Linked DNA regions of Homo sapiens: region 1 is linked to region 2. Evidence: fine-mapped expression QTL. A gene starts in region 2. The other region holds a variant in brackets. All regions are shown on one strand. Distances are from middle to middle.

Region 1 (5,384 bases), 76 kb after region 2:
CATACTTGTCCTTAAAAAATAATAAAATAAATAAAAATGAGTAAAAAATAAACTTTTCAGATAATTAAAAAATTTTACCTCTCATACACCCATTCTTAAGGAAGCTATTCAAAGGTGTATTATAGCAAGACGAGGGAGTAAATCAAGAAAGAAAAAGACATAAGCTTCAGGAAATCAGAGATTTAGCCCTAGAAAGTAATATTCTATGCACACATCACAGTTTTTAATGTTAACAAAGGTGAAACACATAACATACACCCTTACAAAAAAGGTCAAAATGTAAAATTAAAACTTTAAACTCTTAAAAACTACAAAAAAGTTTGTGTTGGCTACCATTTGTACAACATATTTAAACATTTTCATTTTGTGGCAGCACATGAAAAAAGTGATAGTAGAAAATAAAGTCATTGGGGGTTTTCAAATAGCAGAATTGGCAGTTTTGCCATGTAGGAGAAGCAAATAAATATTAGTTTCCCCAAAATTCACATTTGAAAATATTTAGATAAAAGTCACAGAATTTTTCTCAGTAGAGACCCCAATAATTAGCTGCTGTAGGTTACCTGTTTGAAAGGACAATATCTCTTTAGAGTATAACTTTACTAATTTGGGTATAGAGAAGAAGTCTTAGGAATAAGAACATGATCTTAAAGGAGAGAAGAGGAACAGAGGAAGACATAAAAGCAAGAAAAATGTCATGGTAATTGCAATCACTAAAAAACTGTATTCTCAGTCAGTGCAGAATACTGTCTTCTGTCTACAACAGGTGCTTATTCCCGAACTGTTATTGCATCATGGATTTAATTTGCTTGGAGTTAGTCTGATCATTCAAATGTTTTATTGTGTACCGGAGAGCATTTAGAAGATATTTTACACTATTAGGAGGTTGGTCCTTAAGAACTCTGATACAGGCCAGTTGTGGTAGCTCATGTCTATAATCCCAGAACCATGGGAGGCCAAGGCAGGAGGACTGCTTGACCTCAGGAGTTGGAGACCAGCCTAGGAAACATAGCCCATCTCTATAAAAAATTTTTTAAAGTAGCCAGGCATAGTGGTGTATGCCTAGTCCCATCTACTCAGAATGCTAAGGTGGGAGAATCACTTAAGCCTGGGAAGTCAAGGCTTCAGTGAGCCGTGATCATGCCACTGCACTCCAGCCTGGGCAACAGAGCAAGACCCTATCTCAAAAAATAAAATAAATAAAAAATCAGGAAGATATGTTACCTTTGTCCACCAGATTGGGCTTTAAAAAAAAGAACTTGGTACAACCTTTCATACCAAGTTTGGAAGTTTTGGCAAATGCTCCCACTGAATATACTTAATCATAGAGTCTTATGATACCTACTGTATTAGTCCATTCTCAAATTACTATAAAGAACTACCTGAAACTGGGTAATTTATGAAGAAAAGAGGTTTAAATAGGCTCAAAGTTCCACAGGTTGTACAGGAAGCATGGCTGGGAGGCCTCAGGAAACTTAACAATCATGGCATAAGGCAAAGAGGAAGTAAGCATGTCTTCAAATGATGGTAAGACAGAGAGAGTGTGAAGGGGGAAGTGCTACACACTTTTAAACAACAAAATCTCATGAGAATTCACTCACAAGACAGCACTAGGAGGATGGTGTTAAACCATTAGAAACCACCCCCGATGATCTAATCACTTCCCATCAGGACCCACCTCCAACACTTGGGATCACAATTCAACAAGGGATTTGGGTGGCAATACAGAGCCAAACCATATCATTCTGCTCTTAACCCCTCCCAAATCTCATGTCCTTCTCATATTTCAAAACCAATTATGCCTTCCCAACAGTCCCCAAAGTCTTAACTCATTCCAGCATTAACTCAAAAGTTTCTTTACTGGAAGACTTTTTATTATGGCTTCAATCTCATCCCTTGTTATTGGTCTGTTCAGGTTTTGGATTTCTTCATGGTTCAATCTTGATAGGTTGTATGTGTCTAGGAACTTATCCATGTATTCTTGATTGTCCAATTTATTGACATATAGTTGCTCATACTAGCCTCTAATGATCTTTTGAATTTCTGCAGCATCAGTTGTAATGTCTCATTTTTCATCTCTGAGTTTTTTTATTCAGGTCTTCTCTTTTTTTCTTAATCTGGCTAGAGGTTTGTAAATTTTGTTTATCTTTAAAAAAAAAAAGACAACTTTTCTGGCTGGGCACGGTGGCTCATGCCTGCAATCCTAGCACTTTGGGAGTCCAAGGCGAGCAGATCACAAGGTCAGGAGTTCAAGACCAGCCTGGCCAACATGGTGAAATCTTGTCTCTACTAAAAAAAATACAAAAATTAGCTGAGCGTGGTGGTGCGTGCCTGTAATCCTAGCTACTCAGGAGGCTGAGACAGAAGAATTGCTTGAACCCAGGAGGCAGAGGTTGCAGTGAGCTGAGATCACACCATTGCACTCCAACCTGGTTGACAGAGCAAGACTCTGTCTCAAAAAAAAAAAAATCAACTTTTCATTTCACTGTTTTTTTTTGTTTTGTTTTGTTTCTTTCCATTTCATTTATTTCTGCTCTGATCTTTATTATTTATTTTCTTCTACTAATTTTGCACTTGGTTTGTGTCTAGGGATTTTGGGTTTGGTTTGCTCTTGCTTTTCTAGTTCTTTAAGATGCCTCATTAGGTTGCTTATTTTATATATATATATATATT[T/A]TTTTTTTTTTCTTTGAGACAGAGTCTTGCTCTATTGCCCAGGCTGGAGTGCAGTGGCACGATCTTGACTCACTGCAACCTCCACTTAGGGCTCAAGCAATCCTCCAGCCTCAGCCTCCTGAGTAGCTGGGACCACAGGCGTGCACCACCCTGCCTGGCTATTTTTTGTATTTTTTGTGGAGACAGGGTTTCACCATGTTGGCCAGGCTGGTCTCGAACTCCTGAGCTCAAAGAGATCTGCCTGCCTTAGCCTCCCAAAGTGCTAGGATTATAGGCATGAGCCACTACGCCTGGCCTGATGGTACATTATTAATCCTTATACAACTCAATGTTCTTCTATAATAGCTGAAATCATTCTGTATAGCAGGATTTGTCATCCTGAGTTCATCAAACCAGAGTGTGAAATGAAGAACTTCTGAAAACTCTTTAGCAGAAGCCTGTTCTTGCACTAGATGCTGGGTGGGAGAATATGGCGTACTTGTCAAGGCTCCCTGAAGACCTTTTAATGCTGCTTCTAACCGCTGAGACAATTCATAAAATTTCTTTAATTTGCCTCCCAGTGGAACAAATGCACCCCATGCCTTCTCTTGCAACTTCTCATCTGCTGGCTGCTGGATTACCTCTTGTATTTCATGGTCATCTCCTCTGTATGACTGTAAGTCCTCCAAGATGCCGTTTGCATCTTTTAATACTACATTCACCTAATTAATTATAAATTTCCTTTTCAGATTCTGTAGGCTGGGCATTTTCAGGCACTGCTTGTAATTCTATCCTTATCCTTTTATCCTCCTCTTGAACCTCCAAGCACTCTCAGCCCCTCTCCTCTGCCCTCCAGGGGCTGAGCTGCACAGACAGCTCCTCAGCAGTGCTAGGGGAAGCCCCAGGCCTGGAGCTAGAGAGCAGTGGCACTGGGACGAGAAGACCCTTCAAACATGCCCCTGTGGTGAACTGCGACAAAAATATTACCATTTGTGGAGCACATATTAATGGCACAACAGACACCAAACATAAATCACCCCATTCATTCCTCACAACTCTCAAGAAAATATATTCATTGTTTTAAAATCTCATTTTCTCTTCTCTCTTTCTTGTTCATGCATGAGAGCACATGCACATAAAACCACAGCAAATATAGCTATCCCAAAAGGATGCACTCCCTTAGAAACCCAACTTAATAGCAACTTGTTTTCTACTCCACTTTTTTTTAAATATTAAAAGTTAGGCATTTGCAGGCACAGAAAGACAAATATATTATGTTCTCACTCATTATGTGTGAGCTAAAAAGTGATCTAGTGGAGGCAGGGACTAGAATGACAGTTATTCTATCAGAAGCTGGTAAGGATGTGGAGACACAGTGGGGATGTACAAACTTACAGTTAGATATAAGGAATAAGTTCTAGTGTTTGATAGCCTAGTGGGGGGACTATAGTTAACAACAATATATTGTACATTTCAAAATAACTAGAAGATTTGAAATGTTCCCAACACGAAGAAATGATAAATGTTCAAGGTGACAGATAACCTAAATTCCCTTACTTGATCATTACATAATGTATGCATGGGTCAAAATACCACATGTACTCCATAAACATGTACAAATATATTATGTATCAATTTTAAAAGTTGGGCATTTGACTTTGAACCTTTTTGGAACTTTTGCCCTTTCAACTTACAAGAAACCGTCTCCTGCTTTCATGCATCTCTTCTCTTTTCTTTTCTAGTTTTTTTCTCATTTCAATTTCATATAATGCATTCTGTCGCTTTATTTCCTCAGCATCTTTTTCTTCATATTTTTTCCTTCTTTCCTCTTCTTCCTCATGTTCCTTTATTCTAAAGCAAAAACATAATTATAATTGAGAACAAAGCAGAAAAATAGGTTATATTTTTAAGAAATGAATTCAATTCCAACCTGGAATGAGTTGAAGCTGCAAGGAAAAATCTGTGAATTTCTTTGGGGGAAAAGAACAGACATTAAATAGCAGTGACTAAAACTAATCCAATCTTGGTTAACCTAGAATTGGCAATACTTTCCTTGCTTCAAAATTTATTTCATTACTCACCCAAGTAAGTGTTCTTTTCCTTTAGAAAGAACCAGTTAATGGGATGACAGTAAGAAGAAATGGTGACATTATTTTACAGAAAGGTTCCTAATCCCTAGTGCTTCCCAACTTCAGCCCTAGATGATGCTACATAAGCCATGGGCCTAGCCTCTCAAGGAATGCAGTTTGATGGAATGAAAGGAAGAAAGGTCTCCTTACTCAACTGACCACTTGGGTTGTAATTCTTTCTGTAGCCAGTATTGACTAGCTGATAATTTCTTCTGAATTGTGAGCCTCCCTGGCTATCTTTCAGAACACATGTGTGAGTTCCTCAGAGATCCCTGAGGGTCCTCCTCACTGCAGAGCCCTGATCTGAGTGATTTAGCTCCAGCTCCATCTCTTCAGCTCACCCCTAAACCCCACCACTATCGCTACCAGGAGCTCCCACACTAAGCAGTTGATTAAAGACTCCAGGTCTCAAAGGCCCTTCATCCAGCAGCCAAACCTCTGCATACTGGCAAGACAGCGCAAGTCCAAGTTGTCTCCTTGCCCATGGAAAACTCACGCATCCTTGCTAGCCAATCAACAATATACAGGCTTTCTCACTACTCTATCTGCCCTCTCTCTCTTTTTTTTTTTTTTCCTGAAAAGGTAGGCATAGGGCAGGTCGACAAC
Region 2 (5,384 bases):
AATCAGTCTATTCTTTCTTCTCTGTGTCAGTTATCCCTTGCTGTGTGACAAAATCATCCCAAAACTTAGTGGCTTAAACAACACTTATTTATATATATATACACATATATACACACACACGTACATATATGTGTGTGTATATATATGTATATATACACATATATAGTATATGTATACATACACACACTAGGATAATAAATATATATATAAATATATATAAGGAAACTATAGGATAACAAATGTTGTTTATTATATACACTATACATACAGTATCCTTCCATTTATTTATTTTTATTTAAGTTGTGGGGTACATATGCAGGTTTGTTACAGAGGTAAACTTGTGTAATGGGGGTTTGTTGTACAGAATATTTCATCACCTAGGTATTAAGTCTAGGACCCATTAGTTATTTTTCCTGATCCTCTCCCTCCTCCCACTGTCTACACTCTGATAGGCCCCAGTGTGTATTGTGCCCCTCTATGTCTTCATGTGTTCTCATCATTTAGCTCCCACTTATAAGTGAGAACATGTGGTACTTGGTTTTCTGTTTCTGCATTAGTTTGCTAAGGATAATGGTCTCCAGCTCCATCCATGTTCCTGCGAAGGGCATGAGATCATTCTTTTTCATGGCTGCATAGTATTCCATGGAGTATATGTACCACATTTTCTTTATCAAGTCTACCATTGATGGACATTTAGGTTGACTCCATGTCTTCGCTATTGTGAATAGTGTGGCAATGAACATACATATGTGTATGTCTTTATAACAGAACAACTTATATTCCTTTGGGTATATACCCAGTAATGTGATTGCTGGGTCAAATGGTATTTCTGCCTCTAGGTCTTTGAGGAATCGCCACGCTGTCTTCCACAATAGTTGAATTCATTTAAACTCCCACCAGCACTGTAAAATGTTCCTTTTTCTCCACAACCTCACCAGCACCTGTTATTTTTTGACTTTTTAATAATAGCCATTCTGACTGGTATGAGATAGTATCTCACTGCGGTTTTGATTTGCATTTTTCTGATGATTGGTGGTGTTGAGCTTTTTCATTATGATTGTTGGCTGCAAGTATGTCTTCTTTCGAAAAGCGTTGGCCGGGCGTGGTGGCTCACACCTGTAATCCCGGCACTTTGGGAGGCCAAGGAGGACGGATCACCTGAGGTTGGGAGTTTGAGACCAGCCTGACCTACATGGAGAAACCCTGTCTCTACTAAAAATACAAAAAATTAGCCAGGCCAGTCTGTGGCCCAGGGGTTGGGGACCCCTGTTTTAAGGTATTGCAGAATTGTCCCCTCCACACACAGCGAAGTGTAAATCCGTTTAATCTCTGAACTATCTAAAGATGAATATGCTGCTGCTCTCCTGCAATAAAGGGCAATGACTTAAAAGAGGTGGGGGTGGAGAGGCAGAAATGTCCTCTGTTTTACTGCTGTGTAAAACTGGTCACGCCCCTTAGAAGCACCACCACATGCCTAACTGTTGTTGATAATTAATTTACCTGATGCAAGTGAGTGAAAAATTTAAATGATCATAATTTACGTTGCCTTTAAACGACAGAACAATTTAAGTCCTCTAGTTAGCTAGTTCCTTTAAAACACACCCCACATCCCTACCAGAATCACTGCCCATCCCCCCCCACCCCCCCGCCCAAACAGCAATGGTTATTTATTTCTAACATAATCCGGGGACCCTTGCCCCTTAAAATAATTAAATAATATATGCCATATTTTCTCTAGAAGGCACTAGATTTGGCATCAAAAGACTTGCTTTGGCATTCAAGAACAGTGTGTTTGAGGAGGAGGCGTTTATCTTCCCTGAGCCTCAATTTCTTTATCTGTAAAACAACAAAGAACATCAAAGCTCTTTGTAATTTCTTCCTCTTTCCTCAAATAACACTTTGCTCATTACTGCGTTTTTAGAACTTATATCCTAGCGTTAAGTGGAAGCTTAACTGGAAGCTCCATGAAGGTAGGCCTTCCTTTCTGATAACCTAGCGTAAGATCAATAAATGTTTATTAAATGAGGCACTTTACTTCACAAAGGATATGGCATTTTAACGGTTACAAGCGTTCCCAGTCAACGCATCCACAAAGCATTAGGCCACCTATAAACTAGGAATTTAAAAGGCACCAAAATCCTAGAAGTCCTAGGAGGGCGTGGTGACGCAAGCAGGTGAACGCTGGCCGATGCTGACAACCCACTCCTGACGCGCTTCCGGTGCGACGCTGTCTCTCCATGCCAGGACTGAGTTGTGGGGGAGGGAGGCGGTTAGCGGGCTTTAGCGCCTTTTCTGGCGGCGGTAGATTTGAAGCGCTTCAAAGGACCGGACCCAGAGAAGAGGAAAACTCTACCGGTGCAGGTAAGTGGTATGAGGCTCAAGTTGTTCTGGCGGCGTCATTTCAGCAGTCCCTGCGTACGAAAGCGGGAAGGGCCTGGGAAGAGGGGCGGAGCCGGCGCGGCTGACCGGGTTGGGTTTACCGTCTTTCCCTCGAGGTATCGGGGCTGCTTGGGCCCAGAGGAAGTCCCTGAGGACCGCAGCAGTGCCTTTGCCGCTGTTGCAGAAGGAGAAGGCTTGCAGTCGAGCCCCGGGGCCTGGGGACGGTCCTTCCTCTGCCAGCCCCCGCCCTCCCCACTCAGGCGCACACCTCCCTCACTGACGCATTTTGCCGCACAAGCTGTAACATGGCGGCAGCGACTGCGGCCTGAACTCTAGGGAGCCGGGTTGATTTTTAAAGCTTCAAAATCCTAAGACTCAGCACTGTTGCGGGGTAGGTGGCGGGACTGGTGGGGAAGGGGGAGACAGCCTGACGTCCTGTCAGGCTAGGGTTGGAGAGTGACGGGCGAAGAGCCTGAATCACAGGGATTAAAATTGAAGACTAGCTTTCCTCCTCTTTCGACCTTTTCCTCTCACAGCACAGTGGCTGTCGTGCAGTTAAGTGGCAGAGGCCACTTTGTTAAGCATTTTTCTAAAACTCAAGTCCAGGGTCTTGAGCTCTCGCGAAGTTCCCCCGTGTTTCGGAGGAGCTGTGAGCTGCGCAGGCCTTTTAGGAGGAGATAATTACTCTTTAGGAGGAAGATGATGATTTCGGGGCTCAGTATGCCTGAAGGGGAAGTATGCTAATTTGGTTCTTGGTTAGTCTTTTTTTTTGAGACGGAGTCTCGCTCTGTCGCCTAGGCTGGAATGCAGTGGCGCGATCTTGGCTCACTGCAACCTCCGCCTCCTGGGTTCAAGTGATTCTTCTGCCTCAGCCTCCCAAGTAGCTGGGACTACAGGCACGTGCCACCATGCCCGGCTAATTTTTTGTGTTTTTAGTAGAGACGGGTTTTCACCGTGTTAGCCAGGATGGTCGATCTCCTGACCTCGTGATCCGCCCACCTCGGCCTCCCAAAGTGCTGGGATTACAGGCGAGAGCCACCGCGCACGGCCAGCTCATGTTTAGTCTTAAGGAGCAAAGTCTAGATGTGCTGGCAAGGAGTATGCACAATCGTTTTGGAAATGCTATAAAAGCACCATTTTGTGCATTGATTTTAATTTCTTTCCACGATAGCCCTTTCTGTGTGTAACCAACATTTTGCAGTAGTGAACACAAATACAAAAGTATTTGCTTTTATAGTTTGGTACTAACATAGTTGTCCAAAGAACAATTAGATGTTTTAGAAATTAGGGGGGCCTGATATTAACTTTCAGTAGTTAAAACCAGGAAAAAAGAGTGAGTGTGTGTGTGTGTCGGTCACACACACGTTTTTGTCTTTGTGTATTCCCATTTGGTAACAGGATGGCCGGTAATTGCTACTTTGTAACAATGACGGGTGGGGGGGTGAACATTTTATAAATTTTGAAATCGTGCTATAAAATCCAGAAAAGATACATTTAGAATGGCTGCTTCTCTCCTGTTTTTAATATATCCTGAAAATTTACCCGTTTTAGCACTCCCCTTTTTTTTATGTTAACGAGTTGGGACAGAATTATTTCTGTAACAAATTACATGGTTCTGTGTCTTAAACAAGAGTTCATTGTACATTGTTTGACTATTTCTTTATGATTCAGAATTATTGATGCTCTGAGATCCTATAGGGTCTTGTAGTAGGATTCTGCGCATTTGAATTGTTGGTTTCCTTTTTAAGGCTTTTCTAGGCAGTCAGTTGTCAGGAGTGCTCCTGCTGTCAGGAGTGTATAAGTATGTAAACTTCTTAGGTTAGAAAAATTTGGACTTTCTGGCCCAATTATCTTTCTGAGCTTCAGTTTCTTCACCTACCTGCAAAATGACATTTTGATCTCCACCTTCCATCAACTGTGGGCTTGAAAATTAAATACTCAGCTTTGTTAAAATTGTGTGTGAAGTTGGCTTTCATTAACTCAGTGGTTCCTTTATGGGTGAAGAGTGTTCATTACATTTATTTTTAACCATATAGTCGATTTACTGTGGTGCTTATTATTGTGGTCTTGCAGTATTGGTGACTTCTACATATTTTTGATATTTTGCCTTAAATTAGATTTTCTGTGAGGCAGCATCCTCTTCTTTATACAAAGGGAAAGTGGAAGCCATTCATAATAAAGTACTTCTGTTAGGACACTATCTGGGGTTAATTCTTTAAATAGTAGTTGCCCCTTTAGTTAGGCTTTTTTCCTTCCTATTAGTTTATAAATAGAGTATTTAAACATAATTATAACATGTTGTCTATTTTTAGAATCCCAGTGTACTAAGATGTCATGAAGGAATACATAGATAATTAATGCAAGTGACCTGAAGAGTTTGTTGCAAGTCTTTCTGTTGCATTGTGGCATTGCATGCTTTTTGCTTTTATTTATTTATTTTTTTCAGACAGAGTCTTGCTCTGTCGCCCAGGCTGGAGTGCAGTGGCATGATCTCAGCTCACTGCAACCTCCACCTCCTGAGCTCAAGGGATTCTCACGCCTCAGCCTCCCTAGTAGCTGGGAGTACAGGTGCCTGCCACCACACCGGGTAATTTTTATATTTTTAGTAGAGAAGGGGTTTCACCATGTTGGCTACGCTGGTCTCAAATTCCTGACCTCAAGTAATCCATCCGCCTCCGCCTCCCAAAGTGCTGGGATTACAGGCGTGAGCCACTGTGCACTGTGCCCAGCCTGACTTTTGCTTTTTTTTTTGAGACAGAGTCTCGCTGTCTTGCCCATACTGGAGTGCAGTGGCGTGATCTCGGCTCACTGCAACCTCCGCCTCCCGGGTTCAAGCAATTCTTCTGCCTCAGCTTCCTGAGTAGCTGGGATTACAGGCATGTGCCACCACACCCAGCTGATTTTTGTATTTTTTATAGAGATGGGGTTTCACCATGTTGGTTAGGCTGGTCCCAAACTCCTGACCTCATGATCTGCCCACCTTGGCCTCCCAAAGTGCTAGTATT

Evidence for each region. PIP is the estimated chance that this variant, and not a neighbour inherited with it, causes the effect.
Region 1: its variant is the best candidate, but not a certain one, in a credible set for the expression of PPIG in Th17 cells (Schmiedel 2018, PIP 0.86).

What each region holds. Positions count from the first base shown.
Region 1 is chr2:169,657,937-169,663,320 of GRCh38, forward strand. CFAP210 (cilia and flagella associated protein 210) reads right to left here. Exons shown (of 9, transcript NM_001085447.2): 5 at 4,344-4,500. It also overlaps the pseudogene LOC100421474. Among named protein-coding and RNA genes, the nearest start is that of CFAP210, 34 kb to the right of the region's middle. The variant T/A (reference allele first, on the strand shown) is at 2,671.
Region 2 is chr2:169,582,130-169,587,513 of GRCh38, forward strand. PPIG (peptidylprolyl isomerase G) reads left to right here and starts at 2,222. Exons shown (of 14, transcript NM_004792.3): 1 at 2,222-2,361. RefSeq lists an enhancer at 2,138-2,187.